Linked DNA regions of Homo sapiens: all the other regions are linked to region 1. Evidence: fine-mapped expression QTL. A gene starts in region 1. Each other region holds a variant in brackets. All regions are shown on one strand. Distances are between the middles of the regions.

Region 1 (2,686 bases):
GCGGCCTTTGATCTTACAGGGGTTACTTCCTTGGGGAGACTGAAAACAGCTAGGGTTCTGGATTCTGACAAGCCGGGGACTGAATACCGACATAGTCACTTGCTGTGTGACTCTGAGCAAGTCACTTTCTCTCCCCGAGCCTTGGTTTTCTCCTCTGGAAAATGGGTCAAATAATCTTTCCCCTCTGAGACGCGTTGAAATGATTAAATAAAGTGATACACAAAAGGCAAATCCTCACCCGTAGTAAGCACTCATGAATCTTACCGTCCTCATCACGTAAGGACCTGGTGCAGAAAAAGACCAGTCACTGCTTATTGGGCATTTATTCTGTACAAGGTTTAGTTATAAGAGATTTACATATATTGCCTCATTGATATTCACCGCTGCCCTATGGGTGGGCACTATCATTTCTCCCATTTTTACACATGAGTAAACTGAAGTTCAGAGAGGTTAAGTGACTTGCACCATGTCACACAGCTTGGCACCCAGTAAGTGTTCATTGTGACTGTCGCGTGAAATGTGCAATACAGCACCAAGCACAGAATTAGAGCTCAGGAAAGAAAGAATTCTGCTAGGCACAGTGGTTCACGTCTGTAATCCCAGTATATGGGAGACCAAGGTGGGAGAATTGCTTGAGTCCAGGAGTTCCAGACCAGCCTGGACAACATAGTGAGACCCTATCTCTATTAAAAAAAAATTAGCTGGGCATGCACCTGTAGTTCTAGCCACTAGGGAGGCTGCGGAAGGAGGATCGCTTAAGTCCAGGAGTTGGAGGCTGCAGTGAGCTATGATCACATCACTGCACTCCAGCCTGGGTGACCGGCGAGAACCTGTCACTGAAACGAAACGAAATTATTCCCATGGAAGTGAGATCCAGAAGGCAGGGTGGGACTCAAGCTCTAAGGAGCAGCTGGGAAGAGGGAAGAGGCGTTAGGAGCGTTCACAGCGGTCCGCGGCAGGTGCAAGGGAGGGAAGGCGAGGGGGTCTGGTGGAGCCTGTCTACACTGGGACCTCAGCGGTCTCCCAACTTGGAGGCTTGGGAGAAGAGGATCCCGCCTGTGGTTGACCGGGGGCGCACAGGCGGAGGAGGCGTTACCTTGGGCGGGAGGGCGAAGACCACCGGCAGCAGCGCGAGCGGCGTGAACAGCAGCACCAGCAGCCGCCGCGCGCTCCACACCTTCTTGGCCGCTGCTGCCAGCGCCGCCATCAGCGCGATCGCCTGGCGGTACGGGCCGGCCCGGGACTGCCCCGCCTGGCCCCGGCGCCGGCTTAAAGCCTGGGGGAGGGTCGGGGAGGGGACTGCGCTGGGGAACCCGCCCTCTCCCTGCTCCTCCTGGAGGAAAAGGGTGGTGCCTGCGCCCCTGGGACCGGGTGAAAGAGGCCCGGGAACGTTGGAGAAAGTTAGGCACTAGAATTAGCAAACGGGACCCCAGCCGCAGGGCAGTGTGGCCTTGCCTCTTGGCTTCCCAGCAATGTGGCCTGGGGCAGCTGGCTTATCCTCTCCTCGCCTCTGTTTACTCGCCTGTGAGATGGCTGAGGATGACAAGGCGAGGATTAAGGCGCGTACTCCTATTACCCGGGTTCAAATCCTGGCACGGCCACTTACTCACTGCGTGGCCTTCAACAACAGCCTCTGAGCCTGAAAGTGGAGTGGTGATAATAATAGTCTACACCATGGAATACTATGCAGTCACAAAAAAGAAGGACATCATGTTTTTTGCGGGAACATGGATGGAGCTGGAGGCCATTATCCTTAGCAAACTAACACAGGAACAGAAAACCAAATGCCGCATGTTTTCACTTATAAGCGGGAGCTAAATGATGAGAACACATGGACACATAGAGGGGAACAACTGACACTGAAGCCTATGGGAGGCTGGAGGGTGGGAGGAGACAGAGGATCAGGAAAAATAACTAATGGGCACTAGGCTTAATACCTGGATGACGAAATAATCTGTGCAACAAATCCCCATGACACAAGTTTACCTATACAACAAATCTGCACATGTACCCCTGAACTTAAAAGTTAAATTTTTAAAAATAGTCTACACCAGACAAGAAGGTTGTTAGGAAGTTTAAATGAGATAACACATGTAATGTGATTAGCGCAGTGTCTGGCAGAGCAGGTGCTCAATGAGAGTTATTGCTGCTGATGAGTTATTCTTATTTTTGGGTTTTTTTTTCTTTTTTTTGAGATGTAGTCTCACTCTGTAACCCAGGCTGGGCTGGGGAGCAGTGGAGCGATCTCGGATCACTGCAACCTCTGCCTCCCGGGTTCAAGCAATTCTTCTGAGTAGCTGGGATTACAGGCGTGTGCCACCATATCTGGCTAATTTTTTTTTTTTTTTTTTTTGTATTTTTAGTAGAGATGGGGTTTCACCATTTTGGCCAGGCTGGTCTCGAACTCCTGGCCTCATGATCCGCCCATCTCGGGCCTCCCAAAGTTCTGGGATTACAGGTGTGCGTCACCACGCCCGGCCGTTATTCTTATTTTTTTTTAAGGGGGGTGAGTCACTTCTATTCACTTCTGATTATTCTCAGGTAACCATACAGGAGTGCAACTGTTGGGTTGCCCAGTATTTGCAATGCTTAGCTTTTTAAGACACTGTCAACCTGTCTTCCAAAGTGATTGTACTATTTTGCACTTCCATCAACAATGTATGAATCATCCAGTTTCTCCACATCT
Region 2 (2,686 bases), 36 kb after region 1:
GTTAAGCAGACTTTTCATTTTTTGATCATGACCCTGAAAGAGAAATATATTTGACATCAAAACTCAGCACATATCCTTGGTCTATATATACACGTGAAAGTTTCATAAAACAATACACTGATATTTTCCATGCTGTATTCTATTTCATTTTTTAAAATGCTGGTTGTATCCCATTAAACTGGTTTCAAAATAAATATAACATGTACACAACAACAACAAAAAAAAACACTGGGTTAGAGGGCCAGTAAGCTCAGCGAGTATCAGCAACTGAGACTTCATCCTTGTCTCACAAGGACTAAAAAGAGAATAATGTTCTCATTATGTGGTTCAATGCCACACCCATGTATCTGAGATATACATGTCACAATCTGGGAGAAGCCTGTCCTCAATTTACTTTAAATACCCAATTCTGCCTAGAACATGACTTAGACACATAGTAAGCTCTTGAGTGAAGTGCAGATGATAATGACACGATCACATACCACTTAAAAATATCTTAACACCTTTACTTAGATCTCATCTCATACTTGTAGCATTTCTTCAAATTTACTTTGAAAAAAGAGCTTCACTGTGTGTGGTTGTCATACACATTCTTCTACCCAACCATGGACCTCTTTCTTCCTCTCAGGCGCACTTCATCTAATTTTTTTAGCACTGGCCTGGCCTTTTTGGAGGAGGTGGAGTAGCTCTTCAGAAAGGCTTCAAACACAGTTTCAGTGTTGGGATGGGTACTGAGGAAGGCCTTCTCCAGGACATAGAGGTCTACTCCCTTATCCTCTGGAAGTGCTGAAATGAAACTCAGCCCAAAGTCTATGAGCACAATGTTCAGCTGTTCCAGGGGGGGTTTCAGGAGCATGTTGGAGGTGGTGAGATCACCATGAATGAGGTCTTCATCGTGCATTCGAGCCAAAACCTGCCCAATTGTCTTGGCTAAGTTGGAGAGACCCTGGGGAGTTTTTTCAGTCTCCATAGTGGACTGAATATAATCT[C/T]GAACAGTCACTGAGCCTTCAATTTCTTCCATATATAAGCAGTTGGAAGCATAGTCCACAAAAAAGACAACTGGGGCAGATATTCCTGAAATCAAGACATAAGTGGTTATTGGGTTGGATTTTTTTTAACGGGTAAACTTAATTTTCAAAGATTAAGCCAGTTTTTCCATCTATATCTACTTATTTCAGGACTATTGAGGAATGCTACAGGAAATGGTACAACTGAACTCATCTGGAATATTCCCCTGCTCATGCCCACTGCAGGACTATGCCTGGGAACACCCCACAGCTAAACTGAGGAGGCCATAGCTTCCTCCTCCCTTCCAAACCACCCTTTCTCACTGGACTTCATTTGTCACACTCACTCTCTAAAAAACAAACAAAACAAAGGCCGGGTGTGGTGGCTCATGCCTGTAATCCCAGCACTTTGGGAGGCGGAGGCAGGCGGATCACTTGAGGTCAGAAGTTCGAGACCCCCATCTCTACTAAAAATACAAAAATTAGCCAGGTGTGGTGGCTCACGCCTGTAGTCCCAGCTACTCGGGAGGCTGAGGCAGGAGAATAGCTTGAACTCAGGGAGCGTAAGTTGCAGTGAGCTGAGATTGTGCCACTGCACCACTCCAGCCTGGGTGACAAAGTGAGACACTGTCTCAAAAAACAAAAACAAAGAGCAAGGCACAGCCCAGTCAGAGCAGTTTCTACTGATGAGGACACAAACAGGAGGCCAAGCAGTGTGCTAGCTTCGAGGTTCATCTTCGTAGTCAGAGAGGACAGGGTTCAAATCCCAGCTGCTTTTCTTATTAGTTGTCTAATCTAATCTTAAAATTACATTAACTTCTCTAAGCCTCAGTTTCTGCTACTATACAAGGAACAATAGCTCCAATAAACTCAATGAATCTTTACTGAAAGTCAACCAGGCTCAGTATACTTTTCTAGAAACTGAGAGATGTTATCAATGGGGATACAGCAATAAACAAGCCAGCTATAATACAATCTCTGCTTAACGAAACAGATCATGAGGCTGAAAACAGAAATATGAATACACAAATAACTTCATGAAATCTTAAGTCTCTGAAAGGGCAGCAATGTGTCCGCTTGTTGGCTACTGAATATCCCCCACCCAGATCTCCCAGCACTTAACAATGTCCTGGTACCCACTGGTACCTAAAAAATACTGATAAAAGAAAGGCAAGAAGCGTAAAAGTAAAAAGCCAGGGCTTCTGAGTCAGAGGCATAAGGAGCTGAGGGCCTGGACCGGCCACTTAGTAACCGTGTAACCTTGGGCAAGTTACTTCTCTCTGAGTGTCACTTTCTCATCTGAGGACAAAGTTTATGGTGCTGGCGCACAATGATGTTTAATGAAAAAATAGGCAATTTAATGAAATCCAACATTTATTGGGCACTATGTGCCAGGCACACATTTGAACATAATACGTGACACACATACCTCCTCTAATGGTCACAACATCCCTATGACATGGATACTGCTACTATGTCTCCCATTTTACAGGTGAGAAAACCGAGGCTGAGAGGCTAAATAACTTGTTGAAAGGCTACACAAGCAGCAGAGTTAGTATTTCAACCCAGGGAGCCTGGCTCCAGTGGGGCAAGTACTTGTCATTACATGTTTCTTAAAACTAATAAATGGAAAGATAATGATCGAAAATTGAAACGAGTCAAATGGGGAAACCAAGGCT
Region 3 (2,686 bases), 330 kb after region 1:
ACACCTGTAAAAACTGTTACAGTGACTGGTGTGTGTGATAGAGGGCCATGGGCCTGTGAAAGCTGCAGGAGGGAAATCGCTTACTCAGGGAGAGCCTGGGGAAATCCTGCCGGAACTGAGGCCTCTGCAGGGTGAGCAGGAGGGACTGGAGTTCCAGGCAGAGGGAACAGCATGTACAAAGGCCCTGTGGCAAGAGGGAGTGTGGAGCGAGAGAAAGGCCAGCGTGCTGGAATCAGATATTGGACAAGGAGAAGCCAGATCAAGGCTGTGTTCGGAACTCTTTGCTTTATCTTAAGAGCAATGGAAAGCCGTCAGAGGTTATAAGCAAGGATGAGGTGAGGCGGGCAGGTTCAGATTTATGCTGTCATTTGCTGCACAGAGAACAAACTGGAGGGAGGCCCCGGTGGCCCCAGGGAGGTGGGCAGGGGGGCTGCCGTGGTCTTCCTGGGCAGAGAGGATGGTGGCTTGGACCTGGGCGATGGCCATGGAGGTGAACTTTATAAGGCCTGGAGATGGATTGGACGTGAGCATTGAAGGAGAGGGAGAAGTAAGAGCAATCCTGAGCTTTTGGTTTGAGCAACTGCCCCCGAAATGGGGGAAGCCAAGATGGTTTGTGATTCACAGATGTATTTTGAATGGAAATTGAATGAGGCTGGTGGAGGCTGTCAGAGACGTCCAGGTTTGGGCCACAGCTGCTGTCTGTCCAGAAGCCTGTGATTGAAGTCAGCAGGCTTTGATTTCTCAGCCCGTGAAGGATGCTGGGAGTGACCCTCTCCAAAGTCCCCTTAGCCGACTGGCCATCTGTCCTCTGCATCTGACAGACAGGGCCACCATCCTCAGCCAAGGTAGCTGGTGTACTCACGGGGGTGTGGAAAGGTGAGCGGCCCACCCGCCTGGGACCCTCCATCTGCTTTTGATCCCTCCCAGCCTTTGAAGCTGCCCCTGCCCCCACCCTCCAGCTGTCATCTCTCGGGCTCCCCCACTTCTTCCCAGTCCCCAGGGACAGGGGTGGTGACAAGGGTAACAAATGGCACAAGCCGCAGGCAGCAGCAGGCCAAGGGGGCCAGAGGGAGGGTGTTCCTGAATGCCTCTTTCTTCCCGCTCCTTCAGGCTGTCTTCTGAAGTAGCCAGGCTATCAGGGTTTTGCAACAATGCAACAAAGAAAGAATTTTTTTTTTTTGTAAATGAATTCCATGCTTTTCCTTCCTTTCCCTTCCCTGCCTTCGTGAAAGGGAAGCTAAGTCTTTCTCCTACCCCAGATTCCTTGAAGGCTGTCTGAGTTCTCTCTTCCTTCCCCTGCATAGAGAATAAGCTGGTCTCCAATTTCAGGTAATTGTGAGGTGGGGAAGAGTGGGGAGAATGTGAAGGAAGCCTTCCCCACCAAAGTGCAGCAGAGCTCAACTCTGCCCCTCAAACCACAATAGGAACCAGTGGTTTCCGGGTGATCCTGATGACAGTTTCCAGTGTCTACCTGGAATGAAACGAATGGTGTGTTTCAAGCCTTTGTCTGTGTGCATGCAAATAATCTCAGCTGCCCTTTGTTGAATACCCACTCACTCGTGCCTTCTCTGACTCATTTTTCTCAGAATAACCTGGCGGGGAGGGTATTATTTTCTCCATCTT[A/G]TAGAACTGAGGCTCAGATAAGTGAAATAACTTGCCCAAGGTTACACCGCTGATAACGACATAGCTGGGATTTGAACCCCTGGAGCAGATAACACGTCTGGTGCTCTGACTGGGTAGCTTAGTAGACTTTAGAGCTGGATGGGCCCTGAGTTGAAATTGTGATCCAGAGCTATTTGCAAGCTGTGGTTAAGAGCACAGATCTGGAGCCAGATCACCTGGTTGAGAATCCTGACTCTACCACTGACTAGCCAGGTCAGTCTCTGAACCTGTCTCCTTATCTCTACCTACTTCATAGGATGAAACGAGCCAGTGCATGCAGAGAGATTTAAGCCTCAGCGTAAATGCTCTGTAACTGTGAGCTGTTTTTATTTCTAGTATCTGTAAACTAAGCAATATAATTAGGGCCAGGTTAAGACCTTTAGCAGCCTCAAACACCAGAGACTGGCCTCTCTCCTCCATTGTCTCCTCCAATACAATAATAAAACGGTGTGGTTCGTAAGACAAAAAACTCGCTGTGCTGAAATTTTTTTTACAATTTTGTTTAGTTTTGTTTTTTATTGATACATAATAGATGGACATATTTTCAGGGTGCATGTGACTGTTTGATACGTTCATATAATGTATACAGATCAAATCAGCATAATTGGGATTTCATCCCCTTAGATATGTATCTTTTCTTTATGTTAGCATCATTCAAATTACTCTATACTCTGGCTATTTTGAATGTGTGATAAACTATTGTTAATTATAGTCACCGTACTGTTCTATTGAACACTAGCTCTTATTCCTTCTAACTGTATATTTGTACCCATTAATCAACCTCTCTTCATCCTCCCCACCACCCTTCCTGGCCTTCAGTAATCACAGTCTACTCTCTATCTTCATGAGATCTACTTTTTTAGCTCCCACATGTGATTGAGAACATGCCATATTTGTCTTTCTGTCCTTGGCTTGTTTCACTTAACATAACGACCTCCAGTTCCATCCATGTTGCTGCAAATGACAGGATTTCATTGTTTTTTATGGCTGAATAATATTCTAGTGTATATGCATACCACATTTT
Region 4 (2,686 bases), 100 kb before region 1:
GATAGATGGAGAGTGACCCAGTTTTACCTGGGAGTCAGGAAGGCTCCCTGGAAGAGGTGACATTCCAGCTGGGGGTGGAAGGACAAGTGTCAGTTTGTGGGTGAAGAAGGGAGTTGGACATCCCTGACAGAAGGAACAGCGTGTGCAAAGGTCCTGTGCTCTGACCATCGGGAAATAGGGAGTTGGGAGAACCAGAACAGTGGGAAGCTGAGATGCAGTGAGGCCTGTGGGGCTGGAGTGAAGGTCACAACCTTGAAGCCCTAAAGGCTGAATCATATGCAAATGTGCCTTATTGTGGCCCACTCTGTGTGTGTGTGTGTGTGTGTAAGCTGCCCCCATTTGGAAATAAGGAAGTTTCACATTAAAATCTGGGTTTCCAGCTTTTCTTGAGAGATAAGAAGATCTGGGTTAGAGCTCCCACCTTTGCAACAGGTAGCTGGAGCTGAGTATCCACTACCCACCTTTGACAGGGGAGCAGCCCTGCAGACTGCATCCTGCTGATCAATGAACGGGTCCGTCTGCACACCCAGGTGGCCTTCCACAGGTGCAACCCCTTCCCAGCTCCCGAAGGCATTTGAATTTGGGACTAAACACCCCCTTCTACTATATAATTAATATTTGGAACACAGTAGCTTTTGGAATAATAGCTAATAATAAAAACAATTTTAAGGATTGAAAGCCAGTCCTAAGTCATATTGGATGACAATTCCTGCACGGGGTATTGAAAATGGCAAGGAAACTAGCTGCTGTTTAGTGAGTGCTTCCTCTGAGCCAAGCAGGTGCCAAGTACTAAGCATGTGTTTTCTCATTCAATTCTGGCAACAGTCTTGTAGATGTCATTATTACTTCCATTTCACAGATGGGGAACTGAGGCTCACAGAGAACTGAGGATTTGCCTAAGGTCACATAGCCAAGGAATGGCAGAGCTGAAGATTTGGGTTCATATCCATCACCCCCAATGGCTGACTGTTTTCTCACCTGTAGCCCTCAGTGTCCAAAGTCCCCAGACCTACCCGGTCTTGACAAGTTGCTCAGCTGCTCCTGGGTGGCCTGGCATGCTGTCCAAATGGCAGTGGTTTCAGGCGGGCGGTCGCTGGCAGCTGTGGCAGGTGGAGAGGAAGTGGGGGAATCGCTGGGACTTGGGAATCCCTGCCACTTCTGCTTTTCCACTCTTTAATGAAGCTCTCCTGGCTGCCTTGTCCCGCCCTTTTCGGGGCCCACCTCCCAGAGGGTTGGGCAAGCTGCCTCATCCTCTGCCCACAAGCAAGAGCGGGTGGAAGGTGTGGGAAGAGGAAAAGACAGCCTTTTCCAAGCGATGTCTCTAATCTTGGTAGCAGGAAGGTAGAATTAGC[C/T]CCATTTTACAGAGAAGGAAACTGAGGCACAGAGAAACCATACAGCTTCCCTTTCCCTCCCACTCCATAGTTGTGTGCCCCAAGGGGAGCCTGATCCCTGCTCTTGGGACTCACAGGTGATAATCAGACCCCTGCCAAGTACTGGGAGCAGTGGCTCTGGTCTCCTTCCCCAGCCCCCTTCCTGTCTTTAGCCTGACTTGTACCTCGCTTCAAATCTCAGCTCTGTCCCTCCCTAGCTATGAGACCTTGGGCAGGTGACCTCATATCTCTCTGCTGGTTTTCTCCCCTTAAAAAAAGTTTAATGAGGCTGGGCACAGTGGCTCACATCTGTAATCCCAGCACTCTGGGAGGCTGAGGGGGGTGGATCACCTGAGGTCAGGAGTTTGAGATCAGCCTGACCAACATGGTGAAACCCTGTCTCTACTAAAAATACAAAAATTATCTGGTTTGTGGTGGTGCATACCTGTAGTTCCAGATACTCGGGAGGCTGAGGCAGGAGAATCACTTGAACCTAGGAGACAAGGTTGCAGTGAGCTGAGATCACGTCACTGCACTCCAGCCTGGGCACAGAGCGAGACTCCGTCTCAAAAAAAAATAGTTAATGAAAATAACAGTTAACATTTATTGAGCACTTACTATGTATCAGGCATTCTTCTAAACAATTTCTCTTCAAATTCACTGAACACTTACTTTGAACATCCCTTTATGGTAAAGATGTTATTTTCATTCTTCAGCTCAGAAAACTGAGACTCAGAGAGCTACGTCGCCAACCACGCCACTCAGCTATTAATGGTACTGCCGTGATTTCTAACCAGCGGGCTGGCTTCAGGGTATACCAGTTAGCCACTGGGCTCTGCTGCTGTGGAGGGGATAATTCACAGACCTCGTGATTACTTCATAGTACAGCTGGTACTGCAAATAGTAGGTACTCAATAATGTAAATTCCCCACGCACACCCTCTGCAGTTAGTGCCCTGCAGGTCTGCTTTCAGGCTGTCCTGAAAGCCAGTTCCTACCTGGAATGCAGACACCTCTCCAGCATCTCTGTACCCCATCACTCCCAGCAGGCCTCCCCTGAGCCCCCCAGGCTCCCCCTCTGTGGGATGGACCAGTAGGGGCACAGCCACTTTCCCTTATAAGGACATGTTGCCTGGGTCACTCTCAGGCCTGAAGGGGAATGTCCTGCGGCCTGGATAGGGGAAGTGACGTTCTTATAGTTACACAGCGATTGAATGGAATACCTGTGGCCAGAACCCTCAGAGGGCCTAACACACTTCCCAGACAGTGCACCCCTGCAGGATGTTAGGCCAGCTACCAGGTCTGCAAAGAACTAAG

Direction of the effects. Alleles are on the strand shown, and positions count from the first base shown. SD is a standard deviation of normalised expression in the study named. Not every link is listed here.
In carriers of allele C in region 4, the expression in adrenal gland of the gene that starts at base 1,245 in region 1 tends to be higher than with T alone (moderate effect, 0.70 SD a copy in GTEx).

What was found. PIP is the estimated chance that this variant, and not a neighbour inherited with it, causes the effect.
Region 2: its variant is fine-mapped to the expression of SLC13A3 in whole blood (TOPMed, PIP above 0.99).
Region 3: its variant is fine-mapped to the expression of SLC13A3 in cerebellar hemisphere (GTEx, PIP 0.96).
Region 4: its variant is fine-mapped to the expression of SLC13A3 in adrenal gland (GTEx, PIP 0.98).

Annotation. Positions count from the first base shown.
Region 1 is chr20:46,650,215-46,652,900 of GRCh38, forward strand. It overlaps SLC13A3 (solute carrier family 13 member 3), which reads right to left and starts at 1,245. Exons shown (of 13, transcript NM_022829.6): 1 at 1,097-1,245. The coding sequence starts at 1,207.
Region 2 is chr20:46,686,158-46,688,843 of GRCh38, forward strand. It overlaps TP53RK (TP53 regulating kinase), which reads right to left. Exons shown (of 2, transcript NM_033550.4): 2 at 1-1,074. The coding sequence ends at 596. Among named protein-coding and RNA genes, the nearest start is that of TP53RK-DT, 1.8 kb to the right of the region's middle. The variant C/T (reference allele first, on the strand shown) is at 990.
Region 3 is chr20:46,978,302-46,980,987 of GRCh38, forward strand. All of the region lies in intron 1 of EYA2 (EYA transcriptional coactivator and phosphatase 2), which reads left to right. Among named protein-coding and RNA genes, the nearest start is that of EYA2-AS1, 78 kb to the left of the region's middle. The variant A/G (reference allele first, on the strand shown) is at 1,624.
Region 4 is chr20:46,549,504-46,552,189 of GRCh38, forward strand. It overlaps OCSTAMP (osteoclast stimulatory transmembrane protein), which reads right to left and starts at 1,151. Exons shown (of 3, transcript NM_080721.3): 1 at 1,014-1,151. The coding sequence starts at 1,057. The variant C/T (reference allele first, on the strand shown) is at 1,353.